4 linked regions of the Homo sapiens genome follow. The protein of the gene in region 2 purifies or fractionates together with the protein of the main gene of each other region. This does not show direct contact. Each region holds a gene or a part of one and is shown on either strand. Other genes may lie near its edges.

Region 1 (3,000 bases), on a different chromosome or scaffold from region 2:
GATTAGACTTAATGTAAGAACCAAGTACTTGCTGTACATTTCAGACCAGGCAGATAACATAAAGAGAGTGGGATTTTAAAACATTAATCTGATCAGAGCCAGGCACGGTAGCTCACACCTACAATCTCAGCAACTCAGGAGACTGAGGCAGGCGTTCAAGACCAGCCTGGGCAACATAGTGAGACCCTGCCTCTAAAAAATTTTTTTAAATTAGCCAGGCATGGTAGTTGGAGGCTGAGACAACAGGGTCATTTGAACCCAGGAGTTCAAGGCTTCAGTGAGCTATGATTGCACCACTGCATTCCAGCCTGGGTGACAGAGTGAGACCCTGTGTCTAAAATAATACACTTGAAAATAAAAATATGGTCAGAGCAATTGGAATTGTACAACAGTAGTCAATTGCATTAAGATAAGTGTAAAGTTCAAACTGTAGTAGTAAGTGCAGTATTAGTGAGGAAGGGGTTTCTTTCCAAGATTTCAAACAAATACATAGAATTTTGTGGGAATTCAGACGTAAGGGATGAACGACTGAAGCGTCAGAGTCTTAAGAGTTTGAGCATGGTTGAATAGAGTGACCTGTGAAAGACCAAGGCTGTGGATGTCAGTTTTCATGGCAATGTTTTGAGGAGTGTAGATAAAAGTATGAGAGGGGATGAGCTGGAAGCAGCCAGTAGGCTTAGATGCCTTAAATAGTATACATTTAATGTGCTAAAGGGCGTTGATGAAGGAACAGGGAGCATGCTATTTAGAGAAGTGAGCATGGATATCACCTTTTAAACCATTAGTTAGCAGTGGCTCAGGTATTTTCTCGATTTAGAGACTATAGCATACCATGTCACACTAGGAAAGCGTATATGAAAATCCAGACTTATAAAAATTAAAGAGTAGTTGCATTTAAAAGGATTCTTCATTTTCAGCAGGATTAGTCATAAAACTCATTTTAAAGAGTTGAACTTCTTAATATAAAAGAAGATGATTTACCAAAATTTGGTTAGAATGCAGTCCTTTAGAATTGCACTTTTTGGGGACATCTGCATTCAAATAATACCTGTCTTCTAGGGTAAAAGATGCCATGGGAAAAATTGCCAAAAAAAATGTTAGCAGTAAGAACCTTTTCAACAGGGAAAAGTTAGTTTTTAAATAACCACTTGTACATACTACCCTGTGACAGTAATATTCTTCACTAAGTTTGTTTTCTATACTATTTCATTTTTTCTGACAGTTCCTTTCTCCCCATCCCTACTCCTTATAGGTATATTTGGCCCGAAAGGAAGGATCATCTTTTGCTTATATTTCCTGGAAGTTTGAGTGTGGGTCAGTTGGCCTAAAAGTAGATAGCATTTCTATTAGAACAAGTAGTCAAACTTTTCAGACTGGAACAGTAGAATGGAAATTGCGATCTGATACAGCACAAGTAGAACTGACAGGCGGTAAGCATTTGCCTGGAGAATTAATCACGAAATATATATTTACCACTCTGAAGACTAATTGTACTTATTTGAGATGTAGCTCTTTTTCGTACCTAAGAGTTATTAATACTATTTCAGTAAAAAAAAAAAAATTTAATAAACCCTGTGTGATCCCATTGTAACAGAAAGGCTGATGTTTTCTGTTGTGAAATACAAATGCAAGGAAAAAATCATTTCTTTGTTTCAAAGGATGCATTTCTTCCATAAAGAATAATTTGTATTTATTTTTAAGGGTTTATTTTAACTTATACATCAGCCTATATAAAATACATTTCAAAATGATCTGTGCTCTTTAAATTACCAAAAGCAAAATGTTAATTTTTTTTTTCCCTCTAACAGATAACAGTCTTCACTCCTATGCTGATTTTTCTGGTGCCACTGAAGTTATTTTGGAAGCAGAATTAAGCAGAGGAGATGGTGATGTCGCTTGGCAACACACCCAGCTGTTTAGACAAAGCTTAAATGACCATGAAGAAAATTGTTTGGAGATAATTATAAAATTCAGTGACCTTTGAGAACCTGAACATTATAGAAAAGCTGGCAATAATCAAGGACTTACTGAAGTAGTCTGTTGGTTCAGTGCATGCTTAGTTGGCAGTTACCACCCTGTGCTAGCATATTTCTTTTGCTAGCTATCCATCATGTAACCCTCATGAAAATTATCTTTATACGTGGACTATAATAAAATATTGAATTAAAACCTTTCTTCCATATGTGACTATAATTTGGAGTAAAGTCTTGTTGACTCAATATGGGATTTTAATCTAAAACTGTAAGTATGGTTTTAAAAGTTAAATAATGATATTCATGATTAAATGCTATTCATGATTATGATAAAATCTTGGGCTTATGATAGTAATTTGACATTTTCTGATCAGCCATTCATTTCTTCAGAAGTGGTTAAATTAGAGTCTCCTAATATTTTTAATTAATGTGAAAGTACAGTAGCTCATAAATTATATAATGCATGAAAATTTATATGATTATAAATATTCAGGCATTTAAGAAATAAAATGAAGTATTTTGCCTTACATCTTTTTAGTGGTTATTTTGGCTAAATAAAAATCTTTTTTCTAAACATTGAAAAATACTTGAATAGATATGAGTTATGAAAACATTTAACATTGACAACATAAACTAGGATACATTTTAAATTCCATAATACGTGGACATTTTGAAAATGCCTTACCTTTGAGTTATATTTTTATCTACCTCATTGAATAAAATATTCTTGATTTTGAAACTATGTAACTATATTATACAGTATCTATATGTTGTATCAAGAGGTTTTGTGTATATTCTGTATAACCTCTCAAATTTAGTGAACATTTATTAAGCATTTATGTACAAAGCATTGTGATAGCACTGTGGAGGAAGCAGTGGTGAAAAAGACATAGCCCCAAGCCTCCAGATTCCTTTGTGATATTCTGCAAAGTGAGTTCTCAACTCTTTATACAAGAAAAAGACACACTCAAGAGTCTCACCCTGTGCCACTCAATAGAACGTGACATGTATTATAAAATATATAATA
Region 2 (3,500 bases):
CAAAGCACTTAGAACAGTGTCTGGCCTATAATAAGCACTCCATAAGTACTGGCTGTAAAAACGACAATAAAGCCAACATCACTCAAGCCTAATAAATATCACTTTCATGCTAGTCATTTCCAAGTCTACCTCCTTAGTTTGAACTCTGTCTTGAGTTCCACATCTAGATTTCCAGTTGCTGCTAGATATGTCATTTAAAAACATAATTATTCAGTAAATATTTCTGAGTACCTACTATTGGGGTTCAAAGAAGTCCAATAAATAACAGCCTCTTCCCCAGCTTAGCTCTGAACCAATTAAAGAGAAGGACAAAAAAATAAGGCAACTGGAAGATCAAAATATCACCTTTAGTGCTGAAAATATGTTAATAGAGAATGAGGCTTTGTAGTTAGGCAAGTGGGCTACAGCCGAGACTCCCCACTGTCAGACAGAACCAGACTGGTGCAAGTCTCCTGCAGGAGCAGATTCTACCCCTGAACAACTGACGGCCTGCAGGAGCACAGCAGAATGTACACGGGCTTCCTGAGAGTTAGCAAAAACAAAAAGAAAAAGGAGGAGCTGAGCTACTTATGTCCAGCTGCTCCTAATATACTCATCAATCAGATAAATTAATTCCTTGTTCTCTCAGGAAGAGTGAAAGAGGGAGGAAGAGAGAGGCTAAAAAGATGACACTGGTGGGGATCCCTTCTCATAAAAGGAAATATATGGAGTAAGGGTGTAGTGTTCTCCCCAAAACCTATCACATGCTGGCTATTGTGCTAAGCACTGGGCATCTCTACCTGGGTACACTATGGGCATTTCAAACTCGACATCTCTAAAACCCTTATCTACTCCCCACACATATTGCTCCTATGTTTTGGGGTGGGTTTTTTTTTTTTTTCTGGTAGCATCACCAACCTCCTAAGTATCCTGGGTAGAAATATCAAACCCACTTTGACTTGTGATTTCTCTTGACTTTCACATTTGCATCACCAAGGACTGTACATTATTTTGTTTATGCAACTTTTGATTCTTCCCCCTTTTCTTTCCCATTGCCCCTGCTCCAGTTAATACTCTCATAATTTCTCCCCCAGACCATTACTGTAAGCTCCTGACTTCAGGTCTTCCCATTTTATCCAAACCATTTTTTTTCTTCTTCAAAACCCAGCCGGAACTCTGCCTTATCTATGGATCCACTTCAGTCATAATTAACAACTCTTTCCCATAGGTACTAAATCTACACTGTGATTAACTTCTCTTTTGATACTTATGCTATTCATTTCAGTATCTCAGGGGGCTTAAAAAAGTACTCTGAACATACTTGGCACACAATAGATATTTGTTAAATGAATGACCTAAATTAGCAGTATAGGCAGAGAACACAATATGTAAATCCCATGGCCCTACTTGTTTAAAAACATGCATGGAGCACCTACTTTGTCTACAACAATAAGAAATTCTGCTATTTTCTTAATTTTGAGCTACCAAAAGTTGTATTTCATCCTAGCCTGACACTTCGAACACTTGTTTTGATGTATCCAACAAACATGTAAAGAAGACAGATCTGTTAATTGAATAAAAGGTGTGCTCAATGTCTATGTCTTGTTCAGTTGTGGCCCTTGCTACTAGAAGACATTATTTACACAGCTTGGAGCTTTTTACTGGGAACTGGACTGAGATACTGTTGTCAGCACCCATTGTTTTAAATGACCAATACTTCAGTCCCTCCTTCTCTTCTGGGAAGGCCTTTCATCAGATACTGCCTCATTGGCCTAGGTATGGGCAGCTGACCCAAGTGGAGTCAAAGTCCTTCTTGGGAATGTAGAATGAGACTGATGAATTGAGGTTCAGTCTCACCACTCTCTTGAGTAAGAGATTTTTAAATATAGGAATGCTTGGCAATCACGTCTTGCCATATGGACTAAAACAAGAGAGTAAAGAGAGAATTAAGTAGAAATGAGAGAAAAAGAATCTCAATGGGATTTAAGTTCCTGGTTCCAGTTGATCCTGAAGTCAACTGAACTTCCTGTCTTTGGTTCCACAACATTCTAGTACACTTCCTACACTTCCCTTTCAGACTAGATTTATTTATATTGGTTTTCTGTTACAGGCAACTAATAATCCTAACCAGGATAGTTGCCAATTTGTTCCTCAAGATGGTGCAAGAGCTCTCGCTCTCATATGTAATTTTTTAGTTAGATACTTTTTAAAAATTGCAGTAAAAACAACAAAATTTACCATCTTAAGCATTTTTAAGTGTACAGTTCAGTAGTGTTAAGTATATCCACGTTGTTATAAAACAAATCATTAGAACTTTTTCATTTTGCAAATCTGAAACTCTATACTCATTAAACAAAAACCTTTCTCCTTCAACTCTTCCACCCTGCCCTCTGCTAACCACCATTCTACTTTCTGTTTCTGTGCATTTGACTGCTTTAGATGCTTTGTTTAAATCATATAGTATTTGTCTTTTTGTGACTGGCTTATTTCACATAGATAATGTCCTGAAAGTTCATTCATGTCATAGCATATGATAGGATTTCCTTCCTTTTTGAGCCTGAATGGTATTCTATTGTATGTGTATACCATATTTTGTTTATCTACTCATCTACTAATGGACATTTTGGGTTGATTCTATCTCTTGACTTTGGTGAATAGTGCTACTGTGACCATGGGTGTTCAAATATCTCATTCAGACTCTGAATTCTTTTGAAGGCATACCCAGAAGCAGGACTGTTAGATCATATGATAGTGTAAGTGTGAGCCACCATGCCCAACCTGAGTGTTACAGTTCTTTTTTTTTTTTTTTGGAGAGTGTTACAATTCTTAAAGATGGTGTGTCCGGAGTTTGTTCCTTCAGATGTTCAGATATGGTGCATCTGGAGTTGTTTGTTCCTCCCAGTGGGTTTGTGGTCTCACTGACTTCAGGAATGAAGCTGCAGACCTTCGCAGTGAGAGTCACAGCTCTTAAAGCTAGTGTGGACCCAAAGAGTGAGCAGCAGCAAGATTTATTGTGAACAGCAAAACACCAAACCCTGCACATCACAGACAGCAGCCCTACCGGGTTGCTGCTGCTGGCTCCAGTGGCCAGCTTTTATTCCCTTATTTGGCCCCGCCCACTTCCTGCCTATTGGTCCATTTTACAGAGCGCTGATTGGTCCATTTTACAGAGTGCTGATTGGTTCATTTTTACAGAGTGCTGATTGGTGCATTTACAATCCTTTAGCTAGACAGAGTGCTGATTGGTGCATTTGCAATCCTCTAGCTAGACAGAAAAGTTCTCCAAGTCCCCACTCGACCCACGAAGTCCGGCTGGCTCCATATCTCAGTAGTTCTTTTTTTTAATTGTTTTGATGACACTTTATACTATTTTCTATAGAAGTTGCACCATTTTACAGTCCCACCAACAGTGCATGAGGGTTCCAATTTTTCCGCATCCTCACCAACATGTTATTTTCTGTTTTTGCCTTATTTTGTTTTTAGAGTAGCCACCCTAATGGGCATTAGGTGATATCTCATTG
Region 3 (3,500 bases), on a different chromosome or scaffold from region 2:
GTAGGCTGTTTTGACAGTCTGAGGAGAAAGAGAGTTCTATTTCTAAATAGTAACAGATCGACCTTTAAAAATTGGAAGTTGATCAACATTTTTCAAGGTGGGCACAAACAGATCTAATGACAATTTCTTTTGCAAAGTGGAATTTGGACCAAAGATTGCATCTTTAATGGTTAAATAGCTTCTATTTTGTGAAATATATTCTGAATATACCAAAATATATATATATACCCTGAGAGAGAGAATGGTTTGCTTTAACTACCCCTGGCAGTTGGGCTTGTACCAAGGTTGGTACCACGTTGTCCCATTCAACCTGGGAGACTTTCTAGTCCTAGTAATATACTCAGATAGTCTTATGTTAGTCTTCTATTAATATTCATTTTAAATAACTTAAGTATACAGATCTTGTACCAAGAGCTCAGGGCTCACCAAGGGTTCCCTCACCATTCCCTCCTGAATAGCTGGGAGGTGACAAGGAGCACAACATGGGCAATGGCCTTGGGGCAAAGGCCTCTCGACACAAAAACCAATTTACAAACCTTCACAATTGCCAGCAGCAATAGCAAGTGATGTTTTGTAAGTGGAAAACATACCTTTCATTCACCATCAGAGACTGAAATAAATGACTCAACTGGTTTAAAATCTTTATGTGATCAAATAGTTAAAAAACATATCACCGATTCAATTTCTTCTGGTGTTGGACCTTAGGGACAGTACTAATCTGTGTGCTACTAGAGTGAAATTATCATCAATATCAACGCATTACTCTTCACTAGAATGATTAACAGATGGTGTTTTTGTTGGCTACCCAGGGATTTGTTTTCTATTATTCTTTGTATTGTACATATATGTTATATACACTTTTTTGCATGTATAATTTATAATATTTTTCTTAAAGATGGCATGCTCTGGTTAAGAACATTCTGATAGTTGCCAGACACTTATATTGATGATCAGTATTCAAAGATTTCAGGTGTAATGTAATGCAATGCACTCATAACTTACAACTAAAATTTCACTGAACACAACCTAATTTTTCATTGGTGACATGATTCAAAGATTTTTCAGAATAATGTGCAGTGTCTCAGGGGTTTCAGTATATATATATTGTATGTTTTATATATATATAAATATACATATAATATATATTTATATAAATTTTCATTGTATACTCATTATAGTATAGTTTTATAGAAAATGTTTTAAAGGCTTGACTTGTTCATTTGGTTTGGAACTTATATGAGTATGACTTTGATGAGTAATAGGTTATATGTTTAAAACTATGAAGTTACACAGCTTTGCCTACGGATATAACCCAGCTAAAGTTAAAATGGCTACTCACACCTACGGAGGGCAAAAGATAATTCACATTTCTTAAAATTTAAGAAGTTAAAACTTTTCTATGAGAAAAATGGACAAAAATACTTAGCACATATTCAGGGATTTAAATGAGCTGTGTAAAGAAACAGAGTCACTAAAATATTCTCACCCCACTTAACATGTACATCACTTCCCTGCTCCCAGCTTTCCCCAGCTTCCTAGTGTCTATCAGATCAAATCCAGCTTAAGTGGATAAATCCTAGATCCTCCATGGACCCACCATATAGATTATATATTTTTTCCTTTTCCCAACCATGTTCTTGACTCCAGGTGGGGAGGTGTCCTATTTCTGTCACTAGAATGTTCTCATCATGCTTCTCAATGAAGGATTATCCTTTCACTTTTGCTCCTCATGCCAGACGCTCTCTATCCTTTAGGCCCAACTCAAAGCTCACTTCCTCTCCAAAGTCATCTCAATGCCATATATCCTCTGGGGTTAATCTGTTCACTAATCACCTAACAGAGATGTAAAGAGGAGGCACTGTATGTCCTGCATGATGCTGGGCACTGTGGGAAGTTGTAGCCAGTGTGGAAGACGTAGCTCTGGCCCTCAAATGCAGATGCCATCCAGCCTTCCTAACTAGACTGTTACCTTTTCAAAGACTGGCTGGTCCTATATTACTCATGCAGTATCCTACTTAGCTGAAATATCTTGGATGAGATGGGATATATCCCGGTTATTGAAAAGTCTGGGTGATTGCACCACATCTGCCCTGTGTCTATGGTAAGCAAATGAGGAACAGCTGGAGAAACCTTAGCAGTCCTTGGACATGAAAGGAATATTTTCATAGGCACTTAACTCTAGGGCTCACTGTACAGAGTTAACAAATGCTGAATGAATAAATGAATGAGAGTCTTCTTAAGGGAAGAGGAGTAGACTATTAGGATGGGGTGAAGTTTAAGTAAGTGAGAAGAGAGTTGGGGCATTGATTTCTCTACAGCAGAAGGGAAAGGGATGCCTCTTTGAGTAAGGACACAAGGACCACATTTCTGAGGATTTCAAATGCTAGATTTGACCAACACATGGAGCCACAGACCAATGGGACAGCTGCCATTTTGGCAATTTTGTTAAGAGGCATAAGATTTTGTTGAATTAGCTAAATTTTACCTGGCTAAGGAGAATACCCTAGCTTTACTACAAACCAGTAGAGCAGAAAACATTGCCCTAGAAGCATAGGAAATGGGCCAAAATAGTGTCAAAGATACAGCAGTTTCTAACAATAGAAAAGTAGGCAGCAATTTAGACAGAGTAGGTATGGGAGAGGGAGACAAAGTGGACAAGGAGGACTGAGCATGTCCTATGATGGTCTAGGACAGATGATACGAGTACTGCCATCCACACTGCACTCTCCTGCAGGGAGGGTCCCAGTCAGTGGGGGCCAATGAGCGAGATCTTGCTAAGGCATGCAGTCTGGCCTCAGTGTAGCCCAAATCTTTTCCTAGAACCAGCAACAGCATTAACCTGTAGGACATTGTTCCAAATTTCCAAAAGCTCATTTGTAATTTGGTTGGTAACAGAAATATATTTTCCTCCAGAAATTAGGTTAGGTTAGGCCAAATCACAAAAGTCTATTTAATAATCCATATGTACCTGAAGTTTAGCCCTCTACACAGGCATTTCACTCATTTCTAATTACCCAAATGTCCCAGTTACTCTGATTGCCTAAGAAATTACCCCCCCACACCCCAAATCTTACGGGCTTAAAACAGTAACAACTTTTATTTTGTCCATGAAACTGCAACCTGGGGCAGAGCTCAGCAGGGATAGTGCATCTGTGATTCCCTGGCATCAGGAGGGGGAAGGAAGACCTGATGACCGGGCCTGGAGTCATCTGACAGCTTGCTCACTCACATGCCTGCCAGTTGATGCTGGATGTCGGCTGAGACTTTAGCAAGAGATGTTGGCTGAAATACCTACTCTTGGCCTCTCTATGTGGTCTGGGTTTCCTACAATATGGTGACTGGATTCTAAGGGAAAATGTCAAGAAGAAAAAGAATAGCAAGAGAGAAAAAAATTGTATTCTTTTTATGATCTATCCTTGGAAGTCACCTAGCATTATTTCCACTGTACTCTATCAGTTGGACCAATCATAAGCCCATTTAGGTTCAAAGGGAGGGGCAAT
Region 4 (2,612 bases), on a different chromosome or scaffold from region 2:
AGTCGACTCAGTTTCCCCTATTTTACAGATGAGGAAGCCAAAGGTCTAGAGAGGAAAGAGACCTGCTCCCAAGAGCCCAGAATTTGTTAAAACCAAACACTGGAGCTGGGGCCTGGCTCCTTCAGCCTAATGTCCAGTGTTCCACACTGTAGCACCTGTGAAATTTATATATTGATAAATCTTGAATTTCCTTAAGTAATTAAGTTGAAGTGAGTTAGTATGTGTTCATTTTCAAATTGGAAAAAGTCAAAATTTATCTTTCAGTATTATAATGAAGGGTTGCATTAAAAAATGGACTTTATAACAATATATTAATACCTACATATACTTAAGTCTGTTTTACTAAAAATTGTCATCATGTATTTTGCAAACTTGATGAATCTATTCCCAGGGTGGCTCATAAGAGTACATGTTACGTTCAAAGAGATTTTTAAAAACCAAGAAAAGGTGTTGGTTGCTGATCTCTGCCATAATTTTTTCTAATTAAAATTTCTATTGAGATAATTGTAGATTTACATGCAATTATAAGATGATTTTTAAAAATCATATTTATGTTTCAGGGATGTGATTAAATAATCCTTTATAATGTGTTAGAAAATCAAATTACCCAAAAATTGTCCATGTTTTTTTGGAATGAGGGTTGGCAAACTAGTGCCCACAGGTCAAATCCAGCCTGCCACCTATTTTTATAATAAAGTTCTATTGGAACACAGCCATGCCCATTAATTTACAAATTGTCTCTGGATGCTTTTGTGCATTGACGGCAGAGCTGAGTAGTTGTATCAGAGACTTGAAAACTCGAATATGGCTCAAAAGCTTAAAATATGTACAGAAATATTTTGCCAGCACTGATTTTAAAAACTGTACAGTGATCAAACCTGGCCGTTTTATCACAAAACAATTTTTATATTTTCAGTACGTGATGGTTCAAGACATGCTCTCTCCATCCCCCATGGAACGACCTGAAGCTATAAACATCATTGAAAATGCTGTATTTGAGGACTTGGACTTTCCAGGAAAAACAGTGCTCAGACAGAGGTCTCGCTCCTTGAGTTCATCGGGAACAAAACATTCAAGACAGTCCAACAACTCCCATAGCCCTTTGCCAAGCAATTAGCCTTAAGTTGTGCTAGCAACCCTAATAGGTGATGCAGATAATAGCCTACTTCTTAGAATATGCCTGTCCAAAATTGCAGACTTGAAAAGTTTGTTCTTCGCTCAATTTTTTTGTGGACTACTTTTTTTATATCAAATTTAAGCTGGATTTGGGGGCATAACCTAATTTGAGCCAACTCCTGAGTTTTGCTATACTTAAGGAAAGGGCTATCTTTGTTCTTTGTTAGTCTCTTGAAACTGGCTGCTGGCCAAGCTTTATAGCCCTCACCATTTGCCTAAGGAGGTAGCAGCAATCCCTAATATATATATATAGTGAGAACTAAAATGGATATATTTTTATAATGCAGAAGAAGGAAAGTCCCCCTGTGTGGTAACTGTATTGTTCTAGAAATATGCTTTCTAGAGATATGATGATTTTGAAACTGATTTCTAGAAAAAGCTGACTCCATTTTTGTCCCTGGCGGGTAAATTAGGAATCTGCACTATTTTGGAGGACAAGTAGCACAAACTGTATAACGGTTTATGTCCGTAGTTTTATAGTCCTATTTGTAGCATTCAATAGCTTTATTCCTTAGATGGTTCTAGGGTGGGTTTACAGCTTTTTGTACTTTTACCTCCAATAAAGGGAAAATGAAGCTTTTTATGTAAATTGGTTGAAAGGTCTAGTTTTGGGAGGAAAAAAGCCGTAGTAAGAAATGGATCATATATATTACAACTAACTTCTTCAACTATGGACTTTTTAAGCCTAATGAAATCTTAAGTGTCTTATATGTAATCCTGTAGGTTGGTACTTCCCCCAAACTGATTATAGGTAACAGTTTAATCATCTCACTTGCTAACATGTTTTTATTTTTCACTGTAAATATGTTTATGTTTTATTTATAAAAATTCTGAAATCAATCCATTTGGGTTGGTGGTGTACAGAACACACTTAAGTGTGTTAACTTGTGACTTCTTTCAAGTCTAAATGATTTAATAAAACTTTTTTTAAATTAAGTATGTTGACTCTTATTTTGAGGAGTTAGTCCCAAAATGGTAGATTTTCTAATTTATAAAATGGGATCATAGATCTAGGAAGAGTCATAAACCTATCCTCAAAAAAACTTCTTCCTAACCCATTTCAGACAGGTATCTTTTTCATCATTTCCCAAAGACTTGGCAGGCCCTTTCAAAATTCACAAGATCCATAATTGACAGACATTTGCCCAGTACCTACCCTGTGCCAAGGACTGAGAATATAGAGGACTTTCCCCTAAAGGGAGAGCTCTCAGAGAAAAGGGCTGTGGTGATGCTAGTTGTATTGATACCGAGGTGTATCTGACATGTGCCACATCGAGGCATGTGGCAGGCTGGGCTGATGGGGCATGAACCAGCTAGACACAATCTAGAAAGGTCAAAATGCATAGCATCTCCATATTACAAACAAATAATGTCTGCCACGCAAGGTTATGAGCAACTTGTACGCTGGAAAAACACTTCCCAGATCTTTGTGGCTG

The links. The genes of interacting proteins can lie anywhere in the genome.
Region 1: the proteins of VTCN1 (region 2) and NGLY1 purify together in Homo sapiens (affinity purification with mass spectrometry, with the first as the bait; one large-scale study listed by BioGRID). This does not show direct contact.
Region 3: the proteins of VTCN1 (region 2) and NCALD purify together in Homo sapiens (affinity purification with mass spectrometry; 2 studies listed by BioGRID and IntAct, with this or other methods). This does not show direct contact.
Region 4: the proteins of VTCN1 (region 2) and EIF2AK3 purify together in Homo sapiens (affinity purification with western blotting, with the first as the bait; one study listed by BioGRID). This does not show direct contact.

Annotation. Positions count from the first base shown.
Region 1 is NC_000003.12:25,718,444-25,721,443, reverse strand, and holds the end of NGLY1 (peptide-N(4)-(N-acetyl-beta-glucosaminyl)asparagine amidase), read left to right. Parts: intron 1-1,252; coding exon 1,253-1,430; intron 1,431-1,808; coding exon 1,809-1,984; 3' UTR 1,985-2,500; downstream 2,501-3,000. UniProt on the Homo sapiens protein: Specifically deglycosylates the denatured form of N-linked glycoproteins in the cytoplasm and assists their proteasome-mediated degradation. Cleaves the beta-aspartyl-glucosamine (GlcNAc) of the glycan and the amide side chain of Asn, converting Asn to Asp.
Region 2 is NC_000001.11:117,148,428-117,151,927, forward strand, and holds part of VTCN1 (V-set domain-containing T-cell activation inhibitor 1 isoform 1 precursor), read right to left. Parts: intron 1-3,500. UniProt on the Homo sapiens protein: Negatively regulates T-cell-mediated immune response by inhibiting T-cell activation, proliferation, cytokine production and development of cytotoxicity.
Region 3 is NC_000008.11:101,780,970-101,784,469, forward strand, and holds part of NCALD (neurocalcin-delta), read right to left. Parts: intron 1-3,500. UniProt on the Homo sapiens protein: May be involved in the calcium-dependent regulation of rhodopsin phosphorylation. Binds three calcium ions.
Region 4 is NC_000002.12:88,556,241-88,558,852, reverse strand, and holds the end of EIF2AK3 (eukaryotic translation initiation factor 2-alpha kinase 3 isoform 1 precursor), read left to right. Parts: intron 1-916; coding exon 917-1,117; 3' UTR 1,118-2,112; downstream 2,113-2,612. UniProt on the Homo sapiens protein: Metabolic-stress sensing protein kinase that phosphorylates the alpha subunit of eukaryotic translation initiation factor 2 (EIF2S1/eIF-2-alpha) in response to various stress, such as unfolded protein response (UPR).